Regions from separate parts of the Homo sapiens genome. Here region 2 is linked to region 1. The links come from fine-mapping of genetic effects on gene expression. A gene starts in region 1. The other region holds a variant in brackets. All regions are shown on one strand. Distances are between the middles of the regions.

The links. PIP is the estimated chance that this variant, and not a neighbour inherited with it, causes the effect.
Region 2: its variant is the best candidate, but not a certain one, in a credible set for the expression of ANXA7 in whole blood (INTERVAL, PIP 0.80).

Annotation. Positions count from the first base shown.
Region 1 is chr10:73,407,737-73,417,482 of GRCh38, reverse strand. It overlaps ANXA7 (annexin A7), which reads left to right and starts at 3,425. Exons shown (of 13, transcript NM_001156.5): 1 at 3,425-3,471. RefSeq lists silencers at 3,242-3,801, 6,745-6,952 and enhancers at 4,202-4,281, 4,292-4,411.
Region 2 is chr10:73,020,082-73,029,827 of GRCh38, reverse strand. All of the region lies in intron 10 of P4HA1 (prolyl 4-hydroxylase subunit alpha 1), which reads left to right. Among named protein-coding and RNA genes, the nearest start is that of PLA2G12B, 70 kb to the right of the region's middle. The variant G/T (reference allele first, on the strand shown) is at 5,362.

The DNA of each region.
Region 1 (9,746 bases):
GGGCCTCCCAAAGTGCTAGGATTATAGGTGTGAGCCAACTCACCCAGCCAGGAGACCACATTTGAGATGACACCATGGAGAACATTCCCAGTAGAAGCAATAGCAAGTGCCAAGGTCCTGAGAATCTGGTGCATTTGGTCACAAGCTTGGTATGTTTGGACCGAAGGCCACTGTGTTCAGAGGTTAGTGATTAAGGAAAGTGAAGGCCAGGCGCCGTGGCTCACGCCTGTAATCCCAGCACTTTGGGAGGCCGAGGCAGGTGGATCACGAGGTCAGGAGATCAAGACCATCCTGGCTAACATGGTGAAACCCCGTCTCTACTAAAAATACAAAAAAATTAGCTGGGCGTGGTGGCAGTCACCTTTAGTCCCAGCTACTTGGGAGGTTCAGCCAGGAGAATGGTGTGAACCTGGGAGGCGAAGCTTGCAGTGAGCTGAGATTGCACCACCGCACTCCAGCCTGGGCGACAGAGCAAGACTCCGTCTCAAAAAAAAAAAAAAAAAAGTGAAAAGGGATTAGATGAGCGATGTAGGCAGGGACCAGATTATCTAGGGCTTAATAGACCATCAGGAGTTTGGATTTTATTTTATTCTGGTTCCAGTGGGAAGCTATTAAAAAAGTTTAATCACGGGAATTACATGACCCAATTTATTCTTTAGAAAGATCACTCTGACTCAGGGTTTCTTAACCTCAGCACTATTGACTTTTTGGGCTGAATAATTCTTTGTGTAGGGACTGTAGGCATTGTAGGATACGTACCTTGTTTAGAATCCTTGGCTTTCACCCACTAGATGCTAGTAACCCCACCACCTCCCCTCAGTTGTGACAAACAAAGATGTCTCCACACATTGTCAGGTGTCCCTGAGGGACAAAATTACTATTCTAATGGAACAAAAAGGATATGAACTTAAATACCAGACTCTGGGCCAGGCGTGGTGGCTCACACCTGTAATAATCCCAGCACTTTGGGAGGCCGAGGTGGGTGGATCACCTGAGGTCAGGAGTTCGCCTGGGCAACATGGCAAATCACCGTCTGTATTAAAAATATAAAAATTTAGGCCGGACGTGGTGGCTCATGCCTGTAATCCTAGCACTTTGGGAGGCTGAGGCGGGTGGGTCATGAGGTCAGGAGATCGAGACCATCCTGGCTAACACAGTGAAACCCTGTCTCTACTAAAAATACAAAAAATTAGCCAGGCGTGGTGGTAGACACCTGTAGTCCCAGCTACTCGGGAGGCTGAGGCAGGAGAATGGCGTGAACCCAGGAGGCAGAGCTTGCAGTGAGCCGAGATCGTGCCACTGCATTCCATCCAGCCTGGGCAACAGAGTGAGACTCTGTCTCAAAAAAAAAAAAAAAAAAAAAAAAAAAAAAAGCTGGGCGTGGTGGCGGATGCCTGTAATCCCAGCTACTTGGGAGGCTGAGGCAGGAGAATTCGTTGAACCTGGGAAGCAGAGGTTGCAATGAGCTGAGATTGTGCCATTGCACTCCAGCCTGGGCAACAGAATGAGACCCTGTCTCAAAACTACAAAAACAAACAAAAAAAAACCAGACTCTGATACAGTGGGATGTTCACATTAGAAGCATGATGGCTCTTATTTCACATGAACTCTGGAACATACCATGGCCTTCAGAGATGTTGACCAGGTATGGTGGCTCATGCCTGTAATACATCCAGCACTTTGGGAGGCTGAGGCAGGTGGATCGCTTGAGGCCAGGAGTTCGAGACCAGCCTGGCCAACATGGCGAAACCCCATCTGTACTAAAAATACAAAAAAATTAGCTGGGCGTGGTGACATGCCTCCCAGCTACACGGGAGGCTGAGGCATGAGAATCGCTTGAACCCCGGAGGCAGAGGTTGCAGTGAGCCTAGATCGCACCACAGCACTCCAGCCTGGGTGACAGAGCAAGACTCTGTCTCCAAAAAAATTAAAAAATTAAAATGGTCCAGTTGAGTACAAAAAAGAAGATCAGGAAGAGTTTATTGGAGCAAGACGGAGATGAGCAACCTTGAAAACAAGTCTAATTAAGATGAGTAATTGTTAAAAGATGAGCAGTGCTTTCTAAGCAGAGGTAGCAGGAGGAAAGGGTCTCCGATCCTGTAACGCCTTTTATGCCAGGAAGAAAGGATGAATTGAAAGGATGAAATGGCAAATGTCGTAGTAGACTATTGGACTATTCCTGCAGCTCAGGAAAGTGGGCTGGAAATAAGAGGTTTGGCAAATACCCTGTTATGGTGGTATTTAAGGCAGAGGGAGGGTTTGGAACGAGCTCACAAAGGGAACTCTAGAATGAACAGAGTAGGCTTCTCAGGGAAGGCTTAAATCCTGGAGGTCTCTGGGGTAGGTAGGACAGAAAGTCCTGTTATTTTCCAGGTAGACAGACTGTTGGGCGCCGGGGAATTAATGCTGGTCACCTAGAGAGTTGTGCATTTTGTCTACCATTGTTAAATGAGGCAATGACCTGCCTCAAATACTTTTCACTCCACACACCTATTTGGAAGCCACGTATATTTTGCTTGCTCTTCCCATTTAAAATCGTAATCCACTCTATTCCACCCCCATGAGGAAGCTTTTGGGTAGAAAAGTGTGTAGAGGAATAAGTAAGTTGATGTGCATCAGATGTGCAAACTTTAGTGTGCATCAGAACCACCTGGAAGGCTTGTTAAAACAGGTTGCTGGGCACCACCCGGGGAGTTTGATTCAGTAGGTCTAAGGTGGAGTTCAATAATCTGCGTTACTAACACGTTTCCAGGTGATGCTGCTGTTCGGGGGACCACACCCAGAAGCTACCTTTTACCACTCTAAAAGGTAGCTGATTGGTTTTCTCTGTAATATAAATTCCTTAACGAGTTTAAAATATTGATCTGAGCCCTCGTAATTGCCTCAAATGTTTAATGCTAATGTGTGTTCAATGCTGTAGCCACGAGGGGAGCCTAAAATCACCTAACAACTCCTTTCGGGAGTGATTTTGATTAGTTCATCTACAGTTCCAACTAAGATTTCCCACAAATATTACTTTCACAGGAGGCTAACAAAAAACGCCGTCTTTGTCCCCAGAAAATACCTGGAGGACGGTATTTCAGAGGCGGGGAGGCTGCACCAGCCTCCCAGTCTCAGCCCTTCTCTACCGCCCGCCACTGAAGGGGCCCCGGATACCCCCAGGACTGCTGCAACTTCCTAGGTGACTTGAGGCAGCCTTAAAAGGGATTGGTGCAGGGTCCTTGCGACAGATAAATGTGATTAAAAATCCGCTGGGCCACCCGAAGGGAGAGTCTTTTTCCCTCAGGTGGCGCCTAGGGGCGGGACTGAGGGACAGCCCGCTCCCCGCAGCGCCCTCTCCGGCTCCGGGGGTGTTCCCGGCTGCAGCCGCGATCCTAACGGGCTCGCGAGACGCCCCGCCCACCCTGGGCCCGCCCCCGGCTCCATCTTGCGGGAGACCGGGTTGGGCTGTGACGCTGCTGCTGGGGTCAGGTGAGGAGCGGCGCCCCCCTCCCTTTCCCACCTCGTCTGCCTCGGTGGTCTTGCCCTCGGCCAGCTCTGGGCGCTGCTGTCCCGGTGCTAGTGGGGCGCGGCTGGAGGGCAGTGTGGGCCTCCCGGATGGCGGCGACTCGGTTTGCGCGTCTCGTAGCCGGGCTGCCGGCCGGGGTGTGTTGGGGTGGCGTGGGTGAGGCGGCCGGCCTGGCTTACGGGAAGCCCTTCCGTCCGTTTGGAAATCCCAGGGACCAGTGGCGCCCCGCCCTCGGGCAGGTGGAGGGGCTGAGGCCGGAGCGTGGCCCAGCTGCCTCGCGGGAGGCTGAGTAGGGAAACGCACGGGCAGTGCTGAAAGCCGTCTGGCTGGTAGTGGCTGTACTTTCCGGTGACACAGCGAATTTAGGGAAACTTGGGGAAATTTTTACTGTGTTTAGTGAACCGTAGGACAGAATGCGCCAGGCCAAGGTCGTACACTGGTTCTCGTTTACAGTTCTTGGAAGCTATTCTAGAATAGCATTCCAGATTTGATTGCTGTTCCCCGACCAGCAGCAAATCTGTGTTGAAATTAGCTCATCCTGTGCAAACACTGCGCAAGGAAACCAAGGTGCAGAGGTAGATGGCTGATGTCCACCGTAAAGTGACAGACATGACGCTGTTGTCTTCCGACTGCCGTAAACGCCCTGATTTTTGCCAGCTGATGGCCAGCTAATCTGCTAAATGTGTCCGAATTAGATGATGAGTGTAATGAGTTACCTTCCAGGCAAGGAAAGAGTTTCAAGCACTGAATAGGTAAAAGAGATAATTTTGGCCACTGCAAACTTTCAGTCCTTTTCAGTGAGGACTGTCTTTCAGTCCTCACTGGTGGTTGGCTACCTACCTGTCCGTGCAGAGGACTAGCCATGCCTCCATGTTCTTTCTCCACATCACTGACGGATTTAAATGATCCTACCATACCTAGAAGCCGGTTTTGCAAAATTGTATTCGCTGTTGCGCGTATCTTCAGTCACCCTTCCTGTTTCGTGTATTTTTTCCCCCATAAATTTGCAACAGCTGCCTCTTGGGTTCCTGGGCTTCATGCCATCAATGAGAAACGGTGAGACCCAGCCCTTTTACTAACTGACTCACTGGGTGGAGGTGGTTTGGAAAACCAAAAATGATTTTCTAGTCTTTTAAAAGTGATTGCTAACAGAGAATGTTTAAAAAAAAAAAAAAAAAAGCCCGAGCGCGGTGGCTCACTCCTGTAATCCTAGCACTTTGGGAGGCCGAGGCGAGAGATTCACGAGGTCAGGAGGAGTTTGAGACCAGCTTGACCAACACGGTGAAACCCCGTCTCTACTTAAAAATACAAAAATTAGCTGGGCGTGGTGGCGCGCGCCTGTAATCCCAGCTACTCTGGAGGCTGAGGCAGGAGAGTCGCTTGAACCCGGGAGGCAGAGGTTGCAGTGAGCCAAGATCGCCACTGCACTCCAGCCTGGGCGGCAGAGAGAAACTCTGTCACAAAAAAAAAAAAAACCCAAAAAACTCTAGACTTACTATTCACTTGGGCAAAGTTGAGAAATTTTTTGAGTCACTCTGGGTGTTATTTAGCTTTTTACAAAAACGTTTAAAATCTGCCTCTTGAATAAATGATATATGTACAATTCTAAAAGGGCTAAAGTACATTGAAAAGTAAGTCTCGGCCGGGCGCAGTGGCTGTCGCCTGTAATCCCAGCACTTTGGGAGGCCTAGGCGGGAGGATCACGAGGTCAGGAGATCGAGACCATCCTGACTAACACGGTGAAACCCCGTCTCTACTAAAAATACAAAAATTAGCCGGGCGTGGTGGCAGGCGCCTGTAGTCCCAGCTACTCAGGAGGTTGAGGCACAAGAATCTCTTGAACCCCGGAGGCGGAGGTTGCAGTAAGCTGAGATCGTGCCACTGCACTCCAGCCTGGCAACAGAGCGAGACTCCATCTCAAAAAAAGAAAAAAGAAAGGTAAATAGTCTTCTCCATTGTGTCCCAGCTCTTCATCCAGGAAGCAGTCACTGTTTTCTACTTCCTTGAGTGTCCTTTCAGGGATATTCTATAAGTCAAAATCAGTGCATTTTTTACACATAATGGCAGCACACTATGCAGTTTTTCACTTTGCCTTTTTTTTTTTTCATTAATACGTGTTATAGATGGTTTCATATATGGGTAAAAGAAAAAGCTGCCTCATTTTTAATAACCACATAACACCTCCTTGTATGGCTATCCATAATCTGTTTCACCTGTCCCTCCTTTTTAAAAATTTAAGCAATGGCCCCGCACAGTGGCTCACGCCTGTAATCCCAGCACTTTGGGAGGCCGAGGTGGGTGGATCACCTGAGGTCAGGAGTTCGAGACTAGCCTGGCCAACATGATGAAACCCTGTCTGTACTAAAAATACAAAATTTAGCCGGGTGCGGTGGCACGTCCCAGCTACACGGGAGGCTGAGACAGGAGAATCGCTTGAACCTGGGAGGTGGAGGTTGCAATGAGTGGAGATCACACCACTGCACTCCAGCCTGGATGATAGAGCAAGACTCCATCTCCAAAAAAAAAGATAAAATTTCAACAGCTTTTGGAGTACAAGTGGTTTTTTGTTACATGGATGAATTATATGGTGGTGAATTCTGAGATTTTAGTCACCCAAGTAATGTACATTGTACCTAATGTGTAGTTTTTGATTCCTAGCCCCCTTTCACCCTCCCCTTTCTGAGTCTCTAAAGTCCATTATATCACTTCATACCTATGTCTTTGCATACTCATAGCTTAGCTTCCACTTACACAGTGAGAACATACGGCTTTTGGTTTTCCACCCCTGTATTACTTCACTTAGAAAAATGGCCTCCAGCTTCATCCAAGTTGCTGCAAAAGACATTATTTTGTTCCTTTTAATGGCTGAGTAGTATTCCATGGTTTATATATACCACATTTTCTTTATCCACTCAGTTGATGGGCACTTAGATTGGTTCCACATCTTTGCAGTTGTGAGTTGTGCTGCTATAAATATACATGTGCAAAAGTCTTTTTCATATAATGACTTTCTTTCCTTTGGGTAGATACCCAGCAGTGGAATTTCTGGATTGAATGGTAGATCTTTTTTAGCTCTTCAAGGAGTCTCCATACTGTTTTCTGTAGAGGCTGTATAGTAGTGTAATAAGCGGTCTCTTTTCCCCACATCCACACCAACATCTATTGTTTTTTGACTTTTTTTTTTTTTTTTTTTGAGATGGAGTCTCGCTCTCGTTGCCAGGCTGGAGTGCAATGGCGTGATCTCAGCTCACCCCAACCTCCGCCTCCCGGATTCAAGCAATTCTCCTGACTCAGCCTCCCAAGTAGCTGGGATTACAGTCACACGCCACCATGCCCAGCTAATTTTGTTATTTTTGGTAGAGACGGGTTTCTCCATGTTGGTCAGGCTGGTTTCAAACTCCCAACCTCAGGTGATCGCCCGTCTGGGCCTCCCAAAGTGCTGGGATTACAGATGGGGGCTACCGCGCCCGGCCCATTTTTTGACTTTTTAAGAATAACCATTCCTGTAGGAGCACGGTGGTATCTCATTGTGGTTAATTTGCATTTCCCTGATGATTAATGATGTTGAATTATTAATGATTATTTCATGTTTTTTGGCCATTTGTGTATCTTTTGAGAAATGTCTATTCATGTCCTTTGCTCAGTTTTTAATGCAATTGTTTTTTTTTCTTTGTGATTTGAGTTCCTTGTAGATTCTGGATACTAGTCCTTTGTTGGATGCATAGTTTGCAAATATTTTCTCCCATTCTGTGGGTGGTCTGTTTACTCTGTTGATTATTTGTTTTGCTGTGCCGAAGCTTTTTAGTTTAATTAGGTCCCATCTATTTATTTTTGTTTTTGTTGCGTTTGTTTTTGGGGTCTTAGTCATGAATTTTTTGCCTAGGCCAGTGTTTAGAAGACTGTTTCCAATGTTCTAGAATTTTTATAGTTTCAGGTCTTATATTTAAATCTTTTATCAACTTGAGTTGATTTTTGCATTGGATGATAGTTAGGGATCCAGTTTCATTCTTCATGTGGCTTGCCAGTTTTCCCAGCATCATTTATTGAATAGGATGTCCATTCCCCAATTTTTGTTTTTGTGTGCTTTGTCAAAGAGCAGTTGGCTGTATGTATTTGGCTTTATTTCTGAGTTCTCTATTTTGTTCCATTGGTCTATGTGCCTACTTTTAAACCAGTACCATGCTGTTGTGGTAGCTATAGGCTTGTAGTGTATTTGAAGTCTGGTAATGTGATGTCTCCAGATTTGTCTTTTTGCTTAGAATTGCTTTGGCTATTCAGGCTGTTTTTTGTTCCATATTAATTTTAGGATTGTTTTTTCTAATTCTGTGAAAAATGATCTTGGTATTTTGATGGGAATCGCATTGAATCTGTAGATTGCTTTGGGCAGTATGGTCATTTTCACAATATTGATTCTTTCAATCCATGAGCATGGGATGAGTTTCCATTTATGTCATCTGTGATTTCTTTCAGCAGTATTTTGTAGTTCTCCTTGTAGAGATCTGTCATCTCCTTGGTGAAGCATATTCCTAGGTATTCTATTTATTTTTTATTTTTGCAGCTATTATAAAAGGGATTGAGCTCTTGATTTGATTCTCAGCTTGGACGTTTTTGGTATATAGCAGTGCTACTGATTTGTGTACATTGATTTTGTAACCTGAGACTTTACCGATTTCATTTATCAAATCTAAGAGTCTGTTGGAGTCTTTAGGATTTCCTTGGTATATAGTCATAATATCTGCAAACAGTGATAGTTTGACTTCCTCTTTTCCAATTTGGATACACTTTATTGCTTTCCCCTACTTTCCCTCTGGCTAATACTTCCAGAACTATGTCGAATAGGAGTGGTGAAAGTGGATGTCCTTGTCTTGTTCCTGTTCTCAGGGGGAATGCTTTCAACTTTTCCCCATTCAGTATGATGTTGGCTTTGTCGTCATATATGGCTTTTATTATTTTGAGTTAGGTCCTTTCTATGCCTCATTTGTTGAGTTCTTTATTGTAAAGGATGCTGGATTTTGTTGAATGCTTTTTCTGCATCTGTTGAGATCATATGGTTTTTGTTTTTAATTCTGTTTATGTGATACATCACATTTATTGACTTGCATATGTTAAATCATTCCAGCATCCCTGGGATGACACCTGTCCCTTATTGATGGACATTCACATGGTTTTTAACCTTTTCCTATTACAAAAATGCTGCAGTGAATAGCCTTGTACATATATAATTTTGTCCTTGTGCAAGTATTTCTATAAGGTACATTCCTGGAAATGGAATTGCATTCTAGTCTTTTATATAATTATTTTTCAAAATGTACCAAAATTCACTTTCTTAAAATAGCTTTAATTTTTATTATATACAGATAATCTTTGCCTTATTTTCATTTTTGTTGACATAATTCCTCCAGGCTCTTAAAGGTAAGATTTAAGATAGTAGCTAAAGAATTTAGATATAGGTCTTGTCACTGGAACAATTTCTTGAAACTTAGAAATTTAAATTGCTTATGATGTCTTTGGTACTGTAACTGCATATTGCCTTTCAAATTACTATTAATTTATCTCATAAATTATTTTCAGATTTTTTTTTCCTTTATTTTGACCCTGACCCTTTTGCCCTTGGTCTATCTACTTTTCTTTTTCTTTCTTTTTTTTTTTCTTTTTCCTTGTCTTGTCTTGTCTTTTCTTTCAACTGGAGTGCAATGATGCAAACACGACTCACTGCCGCCTTGACCTCCTGGCCTCAAGCAATTCTCCCACCTCAGCTTCCTGAATAGTTTGGACTACAGGTGGGCGCCGCTGCACTGGGTAATTTTTAAAATATTTTTGTAGGGACGAGGTCTTACTATGTTGCCCAGCATGGTCTTTAACTCCTTGGCTCAAGCAGTCCTCCCACCTTGGCCTCCCAGAGTTTTGGGATTATAGGTGTGAGCCACTGCGCCTGGCCTATCTGACCATTCTTTAGAGCTTTTGCCCCTCCTTTACTCTTTATACAAACCCAGGCTTAGAAAAGAAAAAAGCAAAAAAATTCAGCCTGTCCCTGTTTTTATATCCAGCCCTTTGGGATCCCAAATGATTATTTTATAATTGACTGGGTCAGTTTTCATATCATTTTATGTTTCTTATTGACTTATAGCCTTGATTCAATCTATGTCCGTTTATTCTCAATTCAGCACATTTTTAGCTTCTATCCTGTGTTCCTGTCATAAGGGACACTATATTATCTCATTTTCCTATACTGTGTACT
Region 2 (9,746 bases), 390 kb after region 1:
TGTCTATAAATCATTTGTCATCAAAAGTAGCTGTCCCAAAATAATTCTTCTTCACTCCGTCATAATCACAACTTGACTCAAAATATCTGTAGTAAACAGGTATATATAGGAATGTTAGTTATAGGGAATAAACATAAAATCCATGTATAATAATCTCACTTGGTTTCAATAGTAAAAAAAAAAAACTAAGCATAGGCCTATAAACCAGAGAAAAGAAACAGCTTAGTCTTCCCCTTTGTCAGCGTTATTTACTATTCCTTAGTCTTTTCCTGTAGAAAAATACTTTTTAAAATATTTGAGTTCCCTTTTCTGTATTAGATTTTTTTTTTGAAGTTATCAAAATGTGCACTAAAAAAACCAATGCCTTTATTTTAGCCTTTCTGGTTGCAATTTTTTTTTTTTTTTTTTTTTTGAGATGGAGTCTGAGTCTGGCTCTGTGGCCCAAGCTGGAGTGCAGTGACATGATCTCGACTCACTACAACCCCTGTCTCCTGGTTCAAGCGATTCTCCTGCCTCAGCCTCCCAAGTAGCTGGGATTACAGGCATGCGCCACCACACTGAGCTAATTTTGTATTTTTAGTAGAGACGGGGTTTCACCATGTTGGCCAGGCTGCTCTTGAACTCCTGACCTCAAGTGATCCACCTGCCTTGGCCTCCCAAAGTGCTGGGATTACACAGGCGTGAGGCACTGTGCCTGGCCTGGTTGCAAAATTCTAAGACAGATGCAGTCAATATGCAGCTCATAAATTCATTAGAAAGGTGATACTTTTGCTTCTTTTCAACCTTTCTTTTTCTTTTTGAGACAGTCTCACTGGAGTGCAGTGGTGCAATCTTGGATCAGTGCGACCTCTGCTTCCTGGGCTCAAGTGATTCTCCTGCCTCAGCCTCCCAGGTAGCTGGGACCACAGGCACATGCCGCCACGGCTAGCTAATTTTTGTATTTTTAGTAGAGATGGGGTTTCACCATGTTGGCCAGGCTGGTCTTGAACTCCTGGCCTCAAGTGATCTGCCTGCCTTGGCCTCCCAAAGTGTTGGGATTACAGGCATGAGCCACTGTGTCTGGCCTCTTTTCAACTTTAAATAATAAACTGTTGTCCGGGTCTGGTGGCTCATGCCTGTAATCCCAGCATTTTGGGAGGCCGAGCCAGGTGGATCACCTGAAGTCAGGAGTTCGAGACCAGCCTGACCAACATGGAGAAACCCCGTCTCTACTAAAAAATACAAAAAAATTAGCTGGGCGTGGTGGCACATGACTGTAATTCCAGCTACTCGGCAGGCTGAGGTAGGAGAATTGCTTGAACCCAGGAGGTGGAGGTTGCGGTGAGCTGAGATTGCGCCATTGCACTCCAGCCTGGGCAACGAGAGCAAAACTCTGTTTCAGAAATAAATAAATAAATAAACTGTTAATTTATCAGAAGACCAAAATGTATTCTTAAAGACAGTTAATTCCCTTTTTCTAATTAAGTTTTAAAAATGTATTTTGTGTGTGTGTGTGTGTGTGTGTGTGTGTGTGTGTGTGTTTTACAGTGACACGGTTTGATGCCATCCTACTCCGTCTTTGTCAGAACACGTGGTCTTTTCTTCTGTTTTTTTTTCCTATCTCAAAATTATGAAAGCTTTTATTTATAACGCTTGCAGTTTTTTAAAAGTGAGATTCATAAAACTGTGTTCACCCAACACACTGAATCCTATCATGACTTGGCATGAAAAACAGCAACCCACTCAGAGTCCAGTAACACTGTGCCCTCCCCTGTGATGCACACCTGCCAGGTTTATTCAGTGTTTGACTGTTGTTCAGTATTCATCCAACAACATTTTTGATACATGTGGTGCTAAATGTTGGGAATGCAAACCTGAATAAGGTATCGTCCTGATTCCTGCCTAATGGTTTTCCTGGGTTTCACTGGCTATGATTTCTGATTCTTCCCTCCCTCCCTCTGTCCCTCCCTCCCTCCCTCTCTCCCTCCCTCCCCTCCTCTCTCCCTCCCTTCCTTCCTCTCTCTCTCCCTTCCTTCCTTCCATATTTCCTTCCTTCCATGTTTGCTTGCTTCCTTCCTTCCTTCCTTCCCTTCCCTCCCTCCCTGCATCCATCCTTCCCTCCTTTCCTTTCTTTCTTCTCTCTCTTCCTCCCTCCCACCCTCTTTATTTCTTTACTTCCTTCCTTCCTCTCTCCCTCCCCCCTCCCCCTCCCTGACTCCCTTCTTTCCTTCCTTCCTTCCCTTTTTTTTTTTTTATACTTTAAGTTCTAGGGTACATGTGCACAACGTGCAGGTTTGTTACATAGGTATACATGTGCCATGTTGGTTTGCTGCACCCATCAACTCATCATTTACATTAGGTATTTCTCCTAATGCTATTCCTCCCCCAGCCCCCCACCCTCCGACAGGCCCCGGTGTGTGATGTTCCCTGCCCTGTGTCCAAGTGTTCTCATTGTTCAATTTCCACCTATGAGTGAGAACATGTGGTGTTTGGTTTTCTGTCCTTGTGAGAGTTTGCTGAGAATGATGGTTTCCAGCTTCATCCATGTCCCTGCAAAGGACATGAACTCATCCTTTTTTATGGCTGCATGGTATTCCATGGTGTACATGTGCCACATTTTCTTAATCCAGTCTATTATTGATGGACATTTGGGTTGGTTCCAAGTCTTTGCTATTGTGAATAGTGCCACAGTAAACATACGTGTATATGTGTCTTTATAGTAGCATGATTTATAATCCTTTGGGTATTTACCCAGTAATGGGATTGCTGGGTCAAATGGTATTTCTACTTCTGGATCCTTGAGAAATCACCACACTGTCTTCCACAATGGCTGAACTAATTTACACTCCCACCAACAGTGTAAAAGCATTCCTATTTCTCCACATCCTCTCCAGCATCTGTTGTTTCCTCACTTTTTAATGATTGCCATTCTAACTGGCATGAGATGGTATCTCATTGTGGTTTTGCTTCGCATTTCTCTTATGACCAGTGATGATGAGCATTTTTTCATGTGCCTGTTGGCTGCATAAATGTCTTCTTTTGAGAAGTGTCTGTTCATATCCTTTGCCCACTTTTTGATGGGGTTGTTTTTTTCTTGTAAATTTAAGTTCTTTGTAGATCTGGATATCAGCCATTTGTCAGATGGGTAGATTGCAAAAATTTTCTCCCATTCTGTAGGTTGCCTGTTCACTCTGATGGTAGTTTCTTTTGCCATGCAGAAGCTCTTTAGTTTAATTAGATCCCACTTGTATATTTTGGCTTTTGTAGCCATTGCTTTTGGTGTTTTAGTCATGAAGTCCTTGCCCATGCCTATGTCCTGAATGGTATTGCCTAGGTTTTCTTCTAGGGTTTTTATGGTTTTAGGTCTAACATTTAAGTCTTTAATCCATCTTGAATTAATTGTTATATAAAGTGTAAGGAAGGGATCCAGTTTCAGCTTTCTACATATGGCTAGCCAGTTTTCCCAGCACCGTTTATTAAATAGGGAATCCTTTCCCCATTTCTTGTTTTTGTCAGGTTCGTCAAAGATCAGATGGTTGTAGATGTGTGTTGTTATTTCTGAGGCCTCTGTTCTGTTCTATTGGTCTATGTCTCTGTTTTGGTACCAGTACTATGCTATTTTGGTTACTGTAGCCTTGTAGTATAGTTTGAAGTCAGGTAGCATGATGCCTCCAGCTTTGTTCTTTTGGCTTAGGATTGTCTTGGCTATGTGGGCTCTTTTTTGGTTCCATATGAACTTTAAAGTAGATTTTTCCAATTCTGTGAAGAAAGTCATTGGTAGCTTGATGGGGATGGCATTGAATCTGTAAATTACCTTGGGCAGTATGGCCATTTTCACGATATTGATTCTTCCTATCCATGAGCATGGAATGTTCTTCCATTTGTGTCCTCTTTTATTTCGTTGAGCAGTGGTTTGTAGTTCTCCTTGAAGAGGTTCTTCACATCCCTTGTAAGTTGGATTCCTAGGTATTTTATTCTCTTTGTAGCAATTGTGAATGGGAGTTCACTCATGATTTGGCTCTCTGTCTGTTATTGGTATATAGGAATGCTTGTGATTTTTGCACATTGATTTTGTATCCTGAGACTTTGCTGAAGTTGCTTATCAGCTTAAGGAGATTTTGGGCTGAGACAATGGGGTTTTCTAAATATACAATCATGTCATCTGCAAACAGGGACAATTTGACTTCCTGTTTTCCTAATTGAATACCCTTTATTTCTTTCTCTTGCCTTATTGCCCTGGCCAGAACTTCCAACACTATGTTGAATAGGAGTGGTGAGGGAGGGTATCCTTGTCTTGTGCCGGATTTCAAACAGTGCTTCCAGTTTTTGCCCATTCAGTATGATATTGGCTGTGGGTTTGTCATAAATAGCTCTTATTATTTTGAGATATGTTCCATCAATACCTAGTTTACCGCATTTTCAGCATGAAGGGCTGTTGAATTTTGTCAAAGGCCTTTTCTGCATCTATTGAGATAATCATGTGGTTTTTGTCATTGGTTCTGTTTATGTGATGGATTACGTTTATTGATTTGTGTATGTTGAACCAGCCTTGCATCCCAGGGATGAAGCTGACTTGATTGTGGTGGATAAGCTTTTTGATGTGCTGCTGGATTCGGTTGGATTTTTGCGTCGATGTTCATCAGCGATATTGGCCTAAAATTCTCTTTTTTTGTTGTGTCTCTGCCAGGCTTTGGTATCAGGATGATACTGGCCTCATAAAATGAGTTAGGGAGGATTCCCTCTTTTTCTGTTGATTGGAATAGTTTCAGAAGGAATGGTACCAGCTCCTCTTAGTACCTCTGATAGAATTCGGCTGTGAATCCATCTGGTCCTGAACTTTTTTTAGTTGGTAGGCTGTTATTGCCTCAATTTCAGAGTCTGTTATTTTTCTATTCAGAGATTCAACTTCTTCCTGGTTTGGTCTTGGGTGTATGTGTCCAGGAATTTATCCATTTCTTCTAGATTTTCTAGTTTATTTGCATAGAGGTGTTTATAGTATTCTCTGATGGTAGTTTGTATTTCTGTGGGATCTGTGGTGATATCCCCTTTATCATTTTTTACTGTGTCTATTTGATTATTCTCTCTTTTCTTCTTTATTAGTCTTGCTAGCTGTCTATCAATTTTGTTGATCTTTTCAAAAAACCAGCTCCTGGATTCATTGATTTTTTGAAGGGTTTTTTATGTCTGTATCTCTTTCAGTTCTGCTTTGATCTGAGTTATTTCTTGCCTTCTGCTAGCTTTTGAATTTGTTTGCTCTTGCTTCTCTTGTTCTTTTAATTGTGATGTTAGGGTGTCGATTTTAGGTCTTTCTTGCTTTCTCTTGTGGGCATTTAGTGCTATAAATTTTCCTCTACACTGCTTTAAATGTGTCCCAGAGATTCT[G/T]GTACGTTGTGTCTTTGTTCTCATTGGTTTCAAAGAACATGTTTATTTCTGCCTTCATTTCGTTATTTACCCAGTAGTCATTCAGGAGCAGGTTGTTCAGTTTCCATGTAGTTGTGTGGTTTTGAGTGAGTTTCTTAATCCTGAGTTCTAATTTGATTGCACTGTGGTCTGAGAGACAGTTTGTTGTGATTTCTGTTCTTTTACATTTGCTGAGGAGTGCTTTACTTCCAATTATGTGGTCAGTTTTAGAATAAGTGTGATGTGGTGCTGAGAAGAATGTATATTCTGTTGATTTGGGGTGGACAGAGTTCTGTAGATGTCTATTATAATGGTCTGCTTAGTGCAGAGCTGAGTTCCAGTCCTGGATATTCTTGTTAACCTTCTGTCTTGTTGATCTCATATTGACAGTGGAGTGTTAAAGTCTCTCATTATTATTGTGTGAGAGTCTAAGTCTCTTTTTAGGACTCTAAGGACTTGCCTTATGAATCTGGGTGCCCCTGTATTGGGTGCATATATATTTAGAATAGTTAGCACTTCTTGTTGAATTGATCCCTATACCATTACGTAATGGCCTTCTTTGTCTCTTTTGATCTGTGTTGGTTTAAAGTCTGTTTGATCAGAGACTAGGATTGCAGCCGCTGCTTTTTTTTTTTTTTTTCTTTCCATTTGCTTCGTAGATCTTCCTCCATCCCTTTATTTTGAGCCTATGTGTGTCTCTGCACATGAGATGTGTCTCCTGATGGGTCTTGACTCTTTATCCAATTTGCCAGTCTGTGCCTTTTCATTGGGACATTTAGCCCATTTACATTTAAGGCTAATATTGTTATATGTGAATTTGATCCTGTCATTATGATGTTCGCTGGTTATTTTGCTCGTTAATTGATGCGGTTTCTTCATAGCATCGATGGTCTTTATAATTTGGCATGTTTTTGCAGTGGCTGGTACCAGTTGTTCCTTTCCATGTTTAGTGCTTCCTTCAGGAGCTCTTGTAAGACAGGCCTGGTGGTGACAAAATCTCTCAGCATTTGCTTGTCTGCAAAGGATTTTATTTCTCCTTTATTTAGAAAGCTTAGTTTGGCTGGATATGAAATTCTGGGTTGAAAATTCTTTTTTTTAAGAATGTTGAATATTGGCCCCCACTCTCTTCTTGCTTGTAGGGTTTCTGCAGAGAGATCCACTGTTAGTCTGATGGGCCTCCCTTTGTGGGTAACCCGACCTTTCTCTCTGGCTGCCCTTAAGATTTTTTCCTTCATTTCAGCCTTGGTGAATCTGACAATTACGTGTCTTGTGGTTGCTCTTCTCGAGAAGTATCTTTGTGGTGTTCTCTGTATTTCTGAATTTGACTGTTGGCCTGCCTTGCTAGGTTGGGGAAATTCTCCTGGATAATTTCCTGAATAGTGTTTTTCAGCCTGTTTCCATTCTCCCCGTCACTTTCAGGTGTACACCAATCAAACATAGATTTGGTCTTTTTAGATAGTCCCATATTTCTTGGAGGCTTTATTTGTTTCTTTCTACTCATTTTTCTCTAAACTTGTCTTCTTGCTTTATTTCATTAATTCCATCTTCAATCACTGATACCCTTTGTTCCACTTGATCAAATCGGCTACCGAAGCTTGTGCATGCACCATGACGTTCTTATGCCATGGTTTTCAGCTCCATCAGGTCATTCAAGGTCTTCTCTACACTGTTTGTTCTAGTTAGCCATTCGTCTAACCTTTTTTCAAGGGTTTTAGCTTCCTTGCGATGGCTTAGAACATGCTTCTTTAGCTGGGAGGTTTGTTATTACCGACCTTCTGAAGCCTACTTCTGTCAGCTCATCAAAGTCATTCTCTGTCCAGCTTTGTTCTGTTGCTTGTGAGGAGCTGCAGTCCTTTGGAGGAGAGGAGGTGCTCTGATCTTTAGAAGTTTCAGCTTTTCTGCTCTGGTTTCTCCCCATCTTTGTGGTTTTGTCTACCTTTGGCCTTCGATGTTGGTGACCTACAGATGGGGTTTTGGTGTAGATGACCTTTTTGTTGATGTTGATGCTATTCCTTTCTGTTAGTTTTCCTTCTAACAGTCAGGTCCCTCAGCTGCAGGTCTGTTGGAGTTTGCTGGAGGTCCATTCCAGACGCTGTTTGCCTGGGTATCACCAGCAGAGGATGCAGAACAGCAAATATTGCTGCCTGATCCTTCCTCTGGAAGCTTCATCCCAGAGGGGCACCCGCCTGTATGAGGTGTCTGTCGGCCCCTACTGGGAGGTTTCCCCCAGTTAGGCTACACGGGGGTCAGGGACCCTCTTGAGGAGGCAGTCTTTGGTTCTCAGAGCTCAAATGCCATCCTGGGAGAACCACTGCTCTCTTCAGAGCTGTCAGACAGGGACGTTTAAGTCTGCAGAAGTTGTCTGCTGGCTTTTGTTCAGCTATGCCCTGCCCACAGAGGTGGAGTCTACAGAGGCAGTAGGCCTTGCTGAGCTGTGGTGGGCTCCGCCCAGTTTGAGCTTTCTGGCCATTTTGTTTACCTAATCAAGCCTCAGCAATGGTGGACACCCCTCCTCCAGCCAGGCTGCAACCTCTCAGGTCCATCTCAGACTGCTGCACTAGCAGTGAGCAAGGCTCCATGGGCATGGGACCCACTGAGCCAGGCACAGGAAAGAATCTCCTGGTCTGCCAGTTGCTAAGACTGTGGGAAAAGCGCAGTATGTGGGCAGGATTGTCCGGTTTTTCCAGGTACAGTCTGTCATGGCTTCCCTTTGCTAGGAAAGGGAAATTCCCTGACTCCTTGTGCTTCCTGGGTGAGGCGATGCCCCGCCCTGCTTTGGCTCATTCTCTATGGTCTGCACCCACTGTCCAACCAGTCCCAATGAGATGAACCAGGTACCTCAGTTGGAAATGCAGAAATCCCACATGTGAGTGAGAACATGTGATATTTGTCTATGCTGGGCTTATTTTACTAATATAATGAACTCCAGTTCCATCCATGTGATAAGATTACATTCTTCTTATGGCTGAATAGTGTTTCATTATATATAAGCACCACATTTTCTTTATCCATTCATCTGTTGATGGACACTTAGGTTGATTCCATATGTTAGCTGTTGTGAATAGTCCTGCAATAAACATGGGAATGCGGATATCTCTTCATCATGCTAATTTCCTTTCTTTTGGATATATACTTGGCACTGGGATTGCTGGATCATATGGTAGATCTATTTTTAGTTTTTAAGGGAACCTCTGTACTGTTCTCCATAGTGATTGTACTAATTTACATTCCCACCAGCAGTGTATGAGCATGCCCCTTTCTCTTCATCCTTGCCAGTGTCTGTTATTTTTGGGTTTTTTTGTTTGTTTTTTCTTGAGATGTAGTCTTACTCTCTTGCCCAGGCTGGAGTGCAGTGGTGTGATCTTGGCTCACTGCAACCTCCACCTCCTGGGTTAATGCAGTTCTCCTGCCTCAGCCTCCTGTGTAACTGGGATTACAGGCCCCTGCCACCATGCCCAGCTAATTTTTATATTTTTAGTAGAGACAGGGTTTTACCATGTTGGCCAGGCTGGTCTCGTACTCCTGACCTCAGGTGATCCATCCACTTTGGCCTCCCAAAGTGCTGGAATTACAGGTGTGAGCCACTGTGCCTGGCCAGGATGCTGAATTTTTTTGAAAGCTTTTTCTGCATTTGCAGAGATGATCATATGGTTTTTAATTCTGTTTATGTGGTGAATTACATTTATTGAACCAACCTTGCACCCCACAAATAAAGCCTAATTGATTATAGTAAATTAACTTTTTGATGTGCTGCTAGGTTTTGTTTTCTAGTATTTTTTTGAGTATTTTGTGTCTGTGTTCATCAGGAATATCAGCCTGAAGTTTTCTTTTTTCATTATGTCTGTGATGAGTTTTGGTATCAGAATGATGATGCTGGCTTCATAAAATGAGTTAAGGAAAGATTCGTTCTCAATCTTTTGGAATAATTTCAGTAGGATTGATACTAGCTCTTTGTATGTCTGGTAAAATTCAGCTGTGAATCCATCCAGTCCAGAGCTTTTTTTGGTTAGTAGGTTGTTTTTTTGTTTTTTTGTTTTTAATTAAAATTGAATTTCAATTTCAGAATTCCTTATTGGTCTGTTCAGGGTTTCAGTTTTTTTCTGTTTCAGTCTTGGGAGGTTGTGTGTTTCCAGGAATTTATCCATTTCTTCTAGGTTTTTTATAAAAGTTTGTGTGCATAGAGGTGTTCATAATAATCTCTGAGGACTTTTTATATTTCTTTGGGGTCAGTTGTAATGTCACCTTTGTTATTTCTGATTGTGCTTATTTGGATCTTTTTTCTTTGTTAATCTAGCTATCTTGCTGTTTCTAGAATTCTTTATTTGTCTTTGATGTTTGACAATCTGACTGAAATGTGCTTCAGAGGG